Linked DNA regions of Homo sapiens. The protein of the gene in region 2 interacts with the protein of the main gene of each other region in a pairwise test. Each region holds a gene or a part of one and is shown on either strand. Other genes may lie near its edges.

Region 1 (7,026 bases), on a different chromosome or scaffold from region 2:
AGGCTGGCCCCTGTCTGGGTCTTCGCTGCTCTCCTTGAAGGCCAGGGAACTCTTTACCTCTTGCCCCAGGCGCTCCTGAGCACCACCCCGAGATGGCCCGGGACACACCCACCAAAGGCCACTGTTCTGGCCACTGGCACTGGGCCACGGCTGCCTCCAGAACAGAGCAGCCTCTTCATTTCTGAGACCTGCAGACACAACCCCACCTGCCAGCATGCATAGCTGACCAGTCCCTAATGCCACACCTCATGCTCATGGCTCCTGCTGCCTCTGCAGAAACACTAGTTAACAGTGACCTGGGCTACTCTGGGCACATCTGTGATCAATGAGAAATCTCACACTGCAGGACGACACCCTCTGAACTCCGTCCTCCCCCTCCTCAGCATCCCCCACCTCTCAATTCCGGTCTCCAGTGAAGGCTGTACTTGGTGCATCTCAGCCTAGCTGTCCCAGCACGCAAGCAAAATGTACGATTCCCTCCTCTCCCTTCCTGAAAGGCCTGTAGACTGACATTAAGCAGGAATTTAAAAAGTCTGAAGCAAGTTTATCCAGTAGATGGCTGGGGGTGCTACTCGCGCTGTCTCTGAGGCCCTCCTTTGCAGACATCATGACCGTAAGGCTTTTGGGGCCAGCATCTTCCCAGTTCCCTGTAGGTCACGAGGGGCCACTTCTCCCACTTCCTGGGGTCAGCACTGTCCTCTGTGGGCTGCAGAGCAGGCAGCTCAAGGCACTTGGTTTGGGAAGCCTGGTCTCCCTGCAAAGCCGGGAGGCATCAAGCTCTAATTGTGGTGACCAGGCCCTCAGTCACAGCTGGGGCCACCAGAACAGAGGGGCCGCCCTCGCTCAGAGGGCGTCTGGAGTCACTGGGGGCTGGGGCTCTGGGGGCTCGTGGAAGTAGTAGGGCTGGAAGAGTCTCTCGTGGCTGCACAGCTCCATGGCCCGGTAGGTGTGTGCGAGGAGGTGGGGGAAGCGAGATGTGAAGTAGCACACGAAGTCGTCGGGGAGGGACCCCAGCGTCTCCCGCACCTCTGCAGGCAGCTCCCGGTAGTGGTGCTTCTGCAAAGAGTTAGAAAGCTCGGGAGATTAGAAAGGGGTTAGAAAGCTCGGGAAATGTTGGCAAAACACCCTTTCATCATGCAAGGAAGAGACAGAATGTGAGTGTTGGTTTTTGGTAAAGAAAAAGAAAAAAGGCTTATGTATCCAAGAATCCAGCCCCGTCATCTCGCCTGCTACCCTCACTCAGGAGGAGGCCTTGAAGTGAGCAAGGCCCAGCCAGTCCAGGGGGTGCTCAGGCCTTCTGTGACAGTCAGGACCTGGAGACACTCCTGGCCACCTCAGGAGGAGTAAAGTCGCCTGAGATTGGAGTGTCCGTCCCAGTGGGGTCCCCGCATTTGAGGTATGTTTATACATGTTTACACACAGTGGCTGCATCAGACAGGGAGAGGGCCCCACAAAAGTCAGCGACCAGAGACCATGAGGGACATGGGCCGCAGAGCACTGCTTCCCGGAGCTTCACCTGCACCTACGTCCCTGAAGGGAAAATCAGCGTAAGAGAGGCAACAGCCTGCAGTTTGCCAAGTCCAGCTGAAGCCGCCTAGCTCCTGAGAGATGAGAATGCCAGTACAGATAAAAGATTTATAAAGAATGGATGAAAGGAGGAAGGTGTCCATGTCATGGCCACTGGGTCTCCTCCCCAGCATTTACAAACTGCTTACCTTATTTCTCATGGCTCGGAGGAGATCTCTGACAGAACCACCTTTATAGGTCCTGAATTTACGCAGGTCTAGAAAAACATTGAGGGAAGCAATGGGTAATCAAATTTAAAACTAATACATTTTAAAAGAAAACAATTCATGGGGTCCTGGGATTAGGGAGTTGGACTGAAAGGTGAGGTCACTCCACACCTAGGCATGGGAGCAGATCCTCCCATCCAACCCAAGGGTGGTATCCCCCTGAACCCCACCTGGTGATCACACCCAGGTCAGAAATGACCACCTAGAGCACGACACCATCACTCACCTGTCACTCTAGGGAACAAAAATGAAACACACATCAGTGTAACCAAACCACAGAGGACACACCCAAGAAAGTCTCAAACCTGACAGGTGGGATGTGGGGCCTGAACAGCCTGGAGCGGCCATTTCCACGTTTACTTTTTGGAAAGGCGGCAGCGACTTTTGCAACCTGCCCTCTCACACGCTGCAGCATGATCACCTGTCTGGAGGGGGACAGTGATGTTCTCCCGCCAGTCCATCTTCACCACGGCTCTCCCGCCTCTCTCTAACTGCTTCACGATCGGGCCATCCAGGGATTCCTTTTCTATTCTGTCGCTCACGTCCTGTGAGAGAAACAAGGGCAGCAGATGATGGTCAGTGCTGGAGATGCTGAGAGCTGTGCGACTGGGACTCAGTAACAGATCATCACTGACACATAAGCCTGCCCCAGAGCTGGGCAGCAGGCACCCTGCCCCCTCCCTCCCTCATCCATGACTTTCCCTGTGAGCTGCTCTGTTCCTCACGAAGCACAGGCCCACAGAGAGCTTCTCCCATGTCAGAGAGGTGTCACAGAGTACACCTGCATATAGACCACGAACGCATACCCTGAATTTCACATGTGCACACACACGCCATGTGTACGGAGCCGCAAGTGCAATCTATATCCAATGAACCAAAACCAAAAAGAAAAGGAAAGCTCAGATTTGATGTGCATCCCGTGCTTTGTCTACTCACTGAAACAGGGTATGCTCAAGCCCATAACTGGTGGAGGGTCGCCACTCTTCCCTCCACCAGTAGAAAAGACCTGTGAAGCTGGGCCTTCTTCTCAAAGAGGAAACTTGGTGGCAAGAGTATGGGCTCCAGAGGCTCCTGTTGGGATTCAAACCTTGCTCTGCATTTGACTTTGGTAATAAGGAGAGGGTCAGGAAGCACCCAAGTATGGCCTCTTGAAGTCCCACCAGTAAGACAGGTCGACAGCTGAGGACACAGGGAGTGGTGAGCCCTGTCTACATCAATGTTAAGTAGCCTTAGGAGACCCTTTTCTCAGAGCAGCCTTTTCTATGATGAAGATGAAGCCAGACTGGCTGAACTCCTAATTTACAATTGTCAGAGAGAAGCTGTGGAGAGGTTAGATTGTCAACTTGGGTACACTGGGAACACACGTGTCTGAGCTGCAAAGCTGTTACGGCTAAATGACCTGAGTGGAAGCCAGGTGTGTTCGAGAGACATATGACCTGGAGATACTAAGCATTTAAATCCTGTCCCTTGGTGGGTGAAGGTCCCTTTGTGTGGGTTTTATTCCTGTTCTATATTTTGCGATCAAAATGACCTGGTTAGTTTTCACAAGTCCCTGGAAGACATATGGACTTGAGAATTTTCACATTATGTCCATGGACACAGTGACCAATCCATATGCTACAACATGGAAGACAGCATTAAACTCTTCCCAACCCGATCCATCTGAATGGTTGGGCCAGGCAGCGTCCTCCCTAGGAGGCAGGGACACAGTAGTGAATGCAGCAGTCAAGCACTCCTGTCCTCGAGGAGCTTACATTCTGGGGGCTTCCCTCTGGCCAAGGCCCCAGTCAGACCCCAGGAGAGCATGATGGTCACTTCTCAGTACGGTGCCCACCAAGCTGCACTCTGCCTGGACCCAAGGGGAAAAGCACTGCCCCACAAGCCTGCTTTCAGAGCCACGTGCTGGGCAGGAGGCGTTCGGGTGAGTTATGTTCAATTCATACATGGAAGACTTTGAAAAACACATTACCTCTTCAAAAGTCACCTGACATTGTCACAAAGCTTTAAAACAGTCAAATCACCAAAGGAGTTCTAACTTTGCAGAACCTATTTTAAGCAAAAGGAGATCTGGGCCAAGACTGTGTAAAAGATGATAGAAACAAATACAATATAAGAAAGCACTGAAATTTATGACACTTGGGCTGGGCCTGGTGGCTCATGCCTGTAATCCCAGCACTTTGGGAGGCTGAGGCGGGCAGATCACCTGAGGTCCGGAGTTCAAGACCAGCCTGGCCAACATGGTGAAACCCCATCTCTACTAAAAATACAAAAAAACTTAGGCAGGCGTGGTGGTGCATATCTGTAATCCCAGCTACTCAGGAAGCTGAGGCAGGAGAATCACTTGAACCCGGGAGGCAGAGGTTGCAGTGAGCCAAGATTGCACCACTGTACTCCAGCCTGGGTAACGGAGTGAAACGCTGTCTCAAAAAAAATAAAAATAAATAAATAAGCTTATGACACTTGAATGAAATTATATGATGCCTGAGATTTACTTCGAAATAACCTGGGGTGGGGAGAGGGTGAAGGTTAATATTTATTGAACCTGAGGGATGAATAAAGGAGTGCTCATTATAGCATTTAAACATTTATGTATTATATATTTGGAAATTCCATAATATAAAGCTTAACCATTATGGCACATCCATATGATAGAATACTATGGTCATTGGAATTTTAGAACTTTAACATGAAAGAAACTTAAAATATCATGTACAGTTAAAAAAAGGGATTCTGAAACTGTATATACGGTTAGATCCCAATTATACTTTTATATATGAAGAAAACATTAAAACATCAGCCATGATTATCTTCCAGTTTTAGGGTAATGGGCAATTTATTTTATTCTTTGTCCTTTTCTGTATTTTCAAAATCTGAAAAACATTAAATGAAGACTCTGGATAAAGAGAACAGACGTCTCTACCTGGAAGAACTGGAGCTGCTTCTCTAGGCTCCAGAAGAACGGGTGTTTGAGCACATGCTTCGCTGAGGGGCGTTTCTGAGGATCCATCGCAATCATCTTCTCTATCAATTCACGTGCAATGACGTCTTCTATAAAGGAGGAAAATAAGCAACTCATGACTACCAGTCCAAAGCCACAGTGAAATACCAAAAACTTTAAAAAGCTGCACACCCTCTCATTTATGATTCTATTTACAGGAATTTATTCCAATAAAATAATTAGGAACAGACACAAAACCTCAGCCAAAGAGGTGAGTCCTCACTGCATGGTTTGTGAAGGAAGTGACTGTAAACATCCAGTATCAGAGGCCCAAGTGGATACACTACGGTGCCTCCCTACGCTGGGCCATGAGCTGTTAAAGTGCGGCTGTGACTAAATATGGATTGACGTGGAGAGAGATTCAAGGTGACGCTGAAAAACGTGCATGCTGCAAAACAGTATGCAGGATTTAACTGTATTTTTATAAAATATGCAATCACGTCTAGATAAATGACTGGAATAACGTATATGCAAAGGTATCAATAGCCATCATTCATCCCTGTATAATGGGAATATATGGGCCTTTATGCTAATCTGTGTTTTCTATAATAAGAAAAATTAAGCATAAACAAAACAATAATTTAGTTGTAATTTTTTCAAAAGGCAGCACTGGAGTGTCATGGGCCAATTACCACCCAGGAAAACCTGAAGTCTGGAAGAAAGACTTGTTGCACCCATACCAGGAGACCAGGAGGGTGAGGATAAAGCTTGTCTGTCCCCAGCCCAGCACAGACTGCACCTACTGACCACTCGCCATCCCAAGAGAGAAGACAATTTGTCTTCCCAAATGCCAGTGCAGGAAGGGACCTCTGATTATTCAACCCTCATGTCACCAGGTAGAAAAAGAAGGTCTCCAAAGGGGGCTTTGCCTAGGTCACACAAGTAGTTGGTGACCTGGAGGAACCTTGGAGCATCTCAGCTTTAGAAGGTGGCGCCCCAGAGATAACCCTACCAACCCTCTACCAGATTTGGCACAAGTCTGGAGGTCCTGAGGCCTGCGGGGTGAGCAGCTGGGGCACCACGGCCTCTGTGAGTGCAAAGGTGGCACCAGCCCAGCTCTGCAGGGCCACCTGAGGCAGCTGAGGAGCTGCTCCCAACCCCAACCCCTGGACCGCTCACCGTGCTTCTCTGGGTGCAAGCAGTCAAGGCTGCAGGCACCCAGGAGGATGTTGGCCTGCCGCTGCAGGGACTTGCCAAAAGGGTGGCTGCCCTCAGAGATTACGTAGTAAAAGACGCAGCCTGCAGAAAAGATGTCCACCGTGTAGGTCTGAAAAGAGACATGAGGCGTGAGAGGTCTGGGAGCAGAGTTTTCATCCTCACTCACAGTCAGGGAGGGAGGAGCATTGCTGCTGCTTCTGCCACCTAGAAGGTGTCCTGGGAGAATCAGCTGACATATGTGAGCTGCACAGAGCAGCGAGGGCTAACCTGCAGCACTGCATGGGTGTCAGAGGTCCCAGTGGAGAACCTGGGCTTGGAGCCACCTGGAAGCCCCTGGTTCCCTCTCATGTGAGATGAGGACACTGACAGCATGGGGCTGTTGTCAAAAGAGATGCATTAATATGCAAAAATGGTTGCTTACGACAGTGCTTGGCCCATCAAAAGCCCTCCTGGCTGTTATATATTCCTTACCCCCAACACGAAAGTGCTCACAGACAGGGTCTCTGTGTCGTTGCTTCCCTGCTGTACCCCCAGGGCCCAGAATGGTGCCTGCACACAGTAGGTATCAAAATTGCTAATAAGTGAATAAAACAGCTTATGATTCAAAAACAGCCCTAGAAAGAAACTATCTGACAAGTTACCAAGGAGGTCATGTTTGATGTTAATCCGAGAAAGCCTCTCACTTATCCCATGAAACCATTCTGTGTCTACAGAATAGCTTCCTTCGAGGGAAATGTACGTTTGTGTTTTTTAGCTCATGCTACCTGGGGTGTAATACCAAGGTGGTTCCTGAGCACAGCTTGGGTCCCTGTTAGTAGGCCCTGCCTCTGAGATTCTCCACCAGGTGAAGTGAGGGTCTAGTGTGAGGAAGCAGGGGCTCATCACCTCCCATGCTGGAGGAGACACACCTTGAACAACACAGCACTCTCATTCAGCCTCACAACAACCTTGTGAGGCGAGCAGAGCAAATGCTTTCATCCCCAGATGAGAACGTGGACAGAAAGGTTGCATGACAAGCTCAGGGTCACTGCTGGATGTGATAAACCAGGATGGGACTCAGGTCTTCCAATCTCCAAA
Region 2 (7,026 bases):
GGGATTTTTAACATATGAGATTATGTCACTTGCAAATAGAAATGATTTTATTTCATTCTTTTCCATTTGGATGTTTTATTTATTTTTACTTATTTTGGATGCATTTTTTAATGTTTTAAATAAGTTTGCTAAGAGTTTTCAATCAAGAAGAGTAATGCTAGCCTCATAGAATGAGTTGAGAAATATTCCCTTCTCTTCAATTTTTTTGGGAGGCTTTGTGTAGAATTGATTATTTCTTGCTTACATGTTTGATCAAAGAGAACAGTACAGCCACTTGGGCCTATATGAAGAATTTTTAACTACAACTCCAATTTCTTTAATAACTATAGGAGGCTATTCAGGTTATCTATTTCTTCTTCAGTGACCTTTGTTGGTGTAGTTCAAGGAATTTTTCAGTTTACCTAAGTTGCCAAATTTATTGGAATAAAGTTGTCTATAATATTTCTTTATTATCCTTTTAATATCAGTAGACTCTGTAGATATGTCCCCTCTCTCCTCCTAATATTGGCAAATTGTGTTTTCTCTCCAGTTTTTCTGGTCTATCTGCCTAGGTAGAGGTTTGTTAACTTAATCTTTTTAATGGATTAACTTTGGTTTCATTGGTTGTCTCTGTTGTTTTTCTGTGTTCTCTTTCATTGAATTCCACTTTTATCTTTATTATCTCCCTTCCTCTATTGACTTTAGATTTGTTCCTTTTTTTTTTTTTTTTTTTTTCAGTTTAGTTTCCTGAAACGTTTCAGGTGGAAGCTGAGGTAATTAATTTGAGACTTTTGTTCTTTTCAAACATGGCCATTTCTAACATAGCCATTAAAAAATTTTTCCCTAAGTACTGCTTTAGTGGCATCCACAAATTCTGATACCTTGTGTTTTAATTTTCATCCAGTTCAAAAAACTTTCTAATTTATTTTTGGGATTTTTTAAATTTAGAGATTATTTATTTCAGGATCTTTTAAGAGGTCTGTTATTGATTTATAATTTGATTTCATAGTGCTCTGAAAACATGATTTATATGATTTGAATGCTTTTAAATTTATTGAGACTTGTTTTATGGCCCAGAATACATCTATATTAATAAATGTTGCATGTGCCCTTGAGAAGAATGTATACTCTATTGTCATTGAGTGGAATGTTCTATAAATATCAATCAGTTAAAGTTGGTTGGTAGTGTTGTTCAAGCCTACTGTATTCTTGCTGATTTTCTACAAAATTGAAGAGAAGGGAATATTTCTCTACTCATTCTATGAGGCCAGCATTACTCTTCTTGAATGAAAACTCTTAGCAAACTTATTATTTAAAACATTAAAAATGCATCCAAAATTTAAAAAATCAATTTTAGCACTATTTGTTCTATCAGTTCTTGAGAGAGGGATATTGAAATCTCTATAATTGCGGATGTGTCCATTTATTCATGCAGTTCTATCAGTTTTTGCTTCATGTATTTTGAAGCTATGTTATAAGGGCATATATGTTTAAATTTTTATGTCCTCTTAGGATTAATTCATCCCTTTATTATGAAATGATATTCTTTGTCCTTGGTAATATTATTTGCTTTAAAATCTACATTGATGTTAATATAGGCACTCCAGCTTTCTTTGACTAGCGTTGGCATAGCATATCTTTTTTTCCAGTTATTTCCTTGTAACCCACTTGTATCTTCATCTTTAAAGTGTGTTTCTTACAGGCAGCATAGAGTTGAGTCTTGCTTTTTTATCCAATCTGGTCATCTCTGTTTTTTAATTGAGGTGTTTAGACCATTTACGTTTAACATAATTACTGATATAGTCAGGTTTAAATGTATCATATTGTTATTTATTTTCTGTTTGTCCTATTTGTTGTTTGTTCTCCCTTTCCCCCTTTTCTGCCTTCTTTTGGAATAATCGAATTTTTTATGAATCCATTTTATCTCCTTTGTTGGCTTATTAGTCATTACTTTCTGTTTTGTTATTTTAGTGATTGCTTTAGGGTTTATACACATCACAGTCTAACTTCAAGTGATAGTATACCAATTCACATATAATAAAAGAACTTTACAAAAGCGTATTTCCATTTTTCCCTATTGGCCTTTATGCTACTGTTGGAATGCATTTTACTTGTACATATGTTATAATCTGCACAATACATTGTCTTTATTTTTGTTCAGTTAATGTTTTAATGTTTTCAATAATAAGAAAATAATTTCATACATTTACCCCAGTAGTTACCATTTCAGTGCTTTCAATTTGTTTAAATTCAGATTTTTATGTTATCATTTCCCTTCTTCCTGGACTTCCCTTCACATTTTTTATACTGCAAGCCTCCTAATGATGAATTATTTCAGCCTTTATATATCTAAAAAGTCTTTAAATTGCCTTCATTTTTAAAAGACATTTTTGCTGAATATAGAATTTTGAATGAGAGTATTTTTTCAGTACTTTAAATATAGTTTGCTTGTTTGTTTGTTTGTTTTGAGATGGAGTCTCACTCTATCGCCCAGGCTGGAGTGCAGTGGCGCTATCTCGGCTCACTGCAACCTCTGCCTCCCAGGTTCAAGCCATTCTCCTGCCTCAGCCTCCCAAGTAGCTGGGACTACAGGCTTGCACCACCATGCCCGGCTAATTTTTGTATTTTTGTAGAGACAGGGTTTCACCATGTTGGGCAAGCTGGTCTCAAACCCCTGATCTCAGGAAATCCACCACCTCAGCCTCCCAAAGTGCTGGGATTACAGTTGTGAGCCACCACACCCAACCCTTAAATATATTGTTTTACTTTTTCTTGCTTGCATTTTTTTTCTGATGAGAAATCAATATCTCTGTTTCTTGTCTTTTTTCTGTATGCAATAGGTCTTTTCTTCCTCTGGCTACTTTTAAGATTTGTTTTCTTTATTGCTGGTTTTGAACAATTGAGTTATGACATGCCTTGGTGTACTTTTCTTTGTGTATCTTGTGCCGAGATTCATTGAACTGCTTGGATCTCTGGGATTATAGTTTTAGGTTTATAAAATTGTTAGCATTATTACTTCAGATATTTTTTATTTCTCCCTCTCTCACTTCAGGGACTCCTATTACTTATATACTAGGCTACTTGAAATTGTCCACAGTGTACTGGTGCTCTTTCTGAGTTTTAAATTATGTTCTAACTCTTTGTTTATGTTGTTAGTTACAGTTGCCATGCCTTTAAGTGCACTAATCTTTTCTTGTACAATATTTAATCTGCTCTTACTCCCATCCAGTGTTGTTGCTGTTTTTTTGAGACATTGTAGTTTTCATCTTTAAAATTTCACTTTAGGTCTTCTTTATATCTTTTATATCTCTCCCTAACTTTTTGAAAATATAGTGATAATAACTGCTTTAATTACTTTCTCTGCCAATTCTAACATCTGTGTCAGTTCTAGGCCTGTTTTGATTGATTGACTTTCTTCTCATTATTGATCATGTTTTCCTTCCTCTTTGTATGCCTGGTAAACTTTGATTGACTGCCAAACATCGCAAATTTTACCTTGTTGTTTCCTGAATATCTTTGTATTCCTATGAATCTTGAGCTTTGTTCTGGGATACAGTTAAATTTTTTGGGAACAACTTTCTTCTAAGTCTTTCATGATTTTTTAGGTGGGTTTGGAGCAGTGCTCAGTGTAGAACTAGTAATTAGTGTAGAGCTAATTATTCCTCACACTGAGGCAAGACATTCCTGAGTACTCTACCCAATGCCCTGTAAATTATAAGTTTTTCCAGTATGGCTGGAGGTAACAAGCACTTTTTCTGAATCTCTGATGTATTTTAATGGTTCTTTCTCTGGCCTCAGGTAGTTTCAGCACACACATGTGTTAATCGACACTCTTGAATACTTGAGGGAGACAGTATATATTGCCCTTTGGCTTAGCAGACAAAAGCAAAACCACTCACTATTGAAAACGGGGTGGCAGAAGTGATTAAATAAAGAAGTTTCTAAAATGTTAACTGCTTCTCTATAAGTGATGAAATTATAGGCAGTTTTAATATTTTCTATATTTTCTAAAATGTCTACAATAAATATGTATCATATTCACTATTTAGAAAAACACAATGTTGTTAAACACAGTGTTGTTATTTTTGTTTTCATTTTGGGTTTGTTTTTGTTTTTGTTTTAGCTTGGATTTGCTTTCACATCCAGGCTATAGGTTTAGTTTGTCCTCAGTTTTGGAAAGGGCAGTCTTTACTAAAAAAATTAGAGCTTCTTTATTAAGTGAAAACAGACTTAAGATTTGGTAATACAGTATTTGGTAATAGCTGGGGCTATTAGGATAGTATCCAGTAATTCTGGGGAGGTGGCTGTGTTTACCTTCACTCCTTTTCCAACTTCTGCAGCAACTCTACCTGTCCCCCTTCCCCAGATAGTTTTTGCCACTTCATTTTTAATAGCAGGTGCTTTTGCTCTTGTTTGCTAAGCCAAAGGGCAATGCAGAATTATCATGCTTCTGCAATGGAAATACAGCCAAATCTTTGCTCACACGTAGAGAGCCAACGACATACTCTAGAAACAGAAAGCCAGACAGGTGTGAGCTGAATTAACATGGTTTCAAATGTTGTTTGAATGAAGGTCTCGGCTGTGGAGGAATAAGAATCATACATTTGGTCCTTTGTTTTCTTGGGTTATTATAGGTGTCCTTTTCCATAACTACTGAATAATCTGAAGGTCTTTCCAGAGATAAACAGTGTTTTCCAATTGAGGCAGTTCTTTTCAGAAATTTATGAGGAACAAACTGAGTTCTGTTCACTTTTATTAGGCAAACAATTTACATTTTCTTATGAAAATGAAGTCTGCAAACAAGATTACTTTATTAAATCACCACCTTCTCAGCTGTTCTCCTCTGTGGTAAGTATTTGCTGTGATTTAACAAGCCTCCCACCAGCCTCATGAGCATTTTTAAAAATCATTTCTTTTCCTCTGAGATTTAACTAAGACATAAAATCTTTTTATTTTTCAGACCTCTTGGAAAAAGCGGTTTTTCATCCTGTCAAAGGCTGGGGAAAAGAGCTTTAGTCTTTCCTATTATAAAGACCATCATCACCGAGGTTCCATTGAAATTGATCAGTGTGTATCCAAGCAGGAAAACTTTTATAACAACAAATACTATAAAGTCAAACAGTAACAAGTTGCATGCAAATTGAAATTTACATAATTGACCAAAGGAACCTGCTTCAAGCTGATTATAATATTTGTGACTGAATAGGAGCTAAAATAGTGAGCACTTTGAGTTAAAAGATAGTTGAATATTTGTTTCATATTGTATGTCATACTTGATAAGTCTTTAATTAACAGGCATTCAGTTAAGGAGTTTGATTCACATAATTTGTGGATGAGAGGGAGCAGATGAAATTGTCATTTTATAAAGTCAAGATAGAGTTTTAAAAAATATTTAGATCAGCTTTTTTTGGTCTTCTCTTTAATAAATTGTGCACCCCAAAATTGAAAAACATAATTTGTGGAATCAAGAATCCAATTAAAATAGAAATTTTTGAATCTTAGGCTAAACAAAATAATTTCAATTAATTAACCAGATCAAAAAATCCAAACTTATCTTCTAAAATTATTGGACAATCTTGGAAACATGGATCCAGCACATCTAAAGTTTTATTCCATTTGAATCCCAATATAAAATATTAGTTTTCTATTTCTGTATTTACCTTGGTTTAATACTTTGTGTCTATATCTAATAGAAATTCCAGTGTAGAAGTTGGCATAAGTAGCCAGGAAAAGATGCAATCTGTGCAGAAGATGTTTAAATGCCACCCTGATGAGGTCATGTCCATCAGAACCACTAACAGGGAATACTTCCTCATTGGCCACGACAGGTGAGAGAAGTAAGATAACACAGAATATCTACTGCATGCAAAACAAAAACAAACCAAAAAACAAAACATTTTATACCAATAAACATGTTCTGAACCCACGCTACAAACCTCAAATGCCATCTTGGCAATCTTAGTTATTTTTAAAAATATCTTGAAAAGTTACTGAGCTAGTTTCCTAGGGCTGCTATAACAAAGAACCTCATCCTGGATAACTTTGAACAACAGAAATTTATTGTCTCACTGTTCCAGGGGCTAGGAGTCCGAAATTAAGGTATGGGTAGAGCCATGCTCTCTCTGAAGACTCCAAGGAAAGATTTGTTCCAGGGGCCTCTCCTAACTATTGGTAGTTCCCTTGGCTTGAGGCAACATAACTCCAGTCTTCACATGGCGTTCTCCCTGTGTGCATAGCTCTGTGTCCAAATTTCCCCTTTTTATAAGAACATCAGTAATATTGGATTTGGAGCCCTCTCTATTCCAGTATGACCTCATCTTGACCAATTACATCTGCAACAACCCTCTTTCCAAATAAGGTCACATTCTGAAGTATTGGGATACGGAACTGAAACATACAAATTCATTGTATTTTTGCGGGGAGGGTACATTTCAACCGATAACAGTCACCATCACCCCAGAAGCATTCCATGTAAAAGAACCCAATACAAAAACATCTACACAAGCTACATATATTAGGGAGGAACTAGGCTTGCCCCCAAAGTAGTCTGCAGTTTTTAAGAGGGGCTTCTGGTCCTAGCAAAGGTGCCTAGTGGACTCTTCATGGATGATTATCTGCTTGAGGGAGAGGCAAAGCGGGTGTGGGAGAGACTGTGCAGAGGAGGCGGACAATGCCAAAGCCAACATATGAAAAACCCTGATCTGTTTCAGATTGACCAAAGCTTCCTTTTAAGTTGTCCTGTGAGTCCATAGAAAAGATGTGATTATACAAATTCACTCAAGCACATTCTTCATCAACACATGCACTCCCTAAGGGAAGGCCCACCTGCATAGTTACACAAAAATGACACTGACAGGTTAGGGGGCTTGCTTGAGAACACAAAGGAAATCAATGTCAAAGCCGAAAGCCCCAAACCCTGTGATTACTACTATTATTTTCTACTTTTCTTCCCTTTCTCTGAGCTTTCCTTGCAGAGGTGGCTGAGCATTAATTCTAGTGTGCAAATGTGGAGGTGGCGAGGCCATTTAAGCTACTTAGGAAAAATTC

Evidence for each region. The genes of interacting proteins can lie anywhere in the genome.
Region 1: the proteins of PLEKHS1 (region 2) and ERN1 interact in binary tests that used the Homo sapiens proteins (3 or more experiments, as listed by UniProt).

What each region holds. Positions count from the first base shown.
Region 1 is NC_000017.11:64,043,145-64,050,170, forward strand, and holds part of ERN1 (serine/threonine-protein kinase/endoribonuclease IRE1 precursor), read right to left. Parts: intron 6,059-7,026; coding exon 5,911-6,058; intron 4,842-5,910; coding exon 4,714-4,841; intron 2,339-4,713; coding exon 2,215-2,338; intron 1,784-2,214; coding exon 1,716-1,783; intron 1,057-1,715; coding exon 844-1,056; 3' UTR 1-843. UniProt on the Homo sapiens protein: Serine/threonine-protein kinase and endoribonuclease that acts as a key sensor for the endoplasmic reticulum unfolded protein response (UPR).
Region 2 is NC_000010.11:113,761,673-113,768,698, forward strand, and holds part of PLEKHS1 (pleckstrin homology domain-containing family S member 1), read left to right. Parts: intron 1-3,146; exon of another isoform or gene 3,147-3,708; coding exon of another isoform or gene 3,709-3,718; intron 3,719-4,738; coding exon 4,739-4,827; intron 4,828-4,939; coding exon 4,940-5,046; intron 5,047-5,672; coding exon 5,673-5,807; intron 5,808-7,026.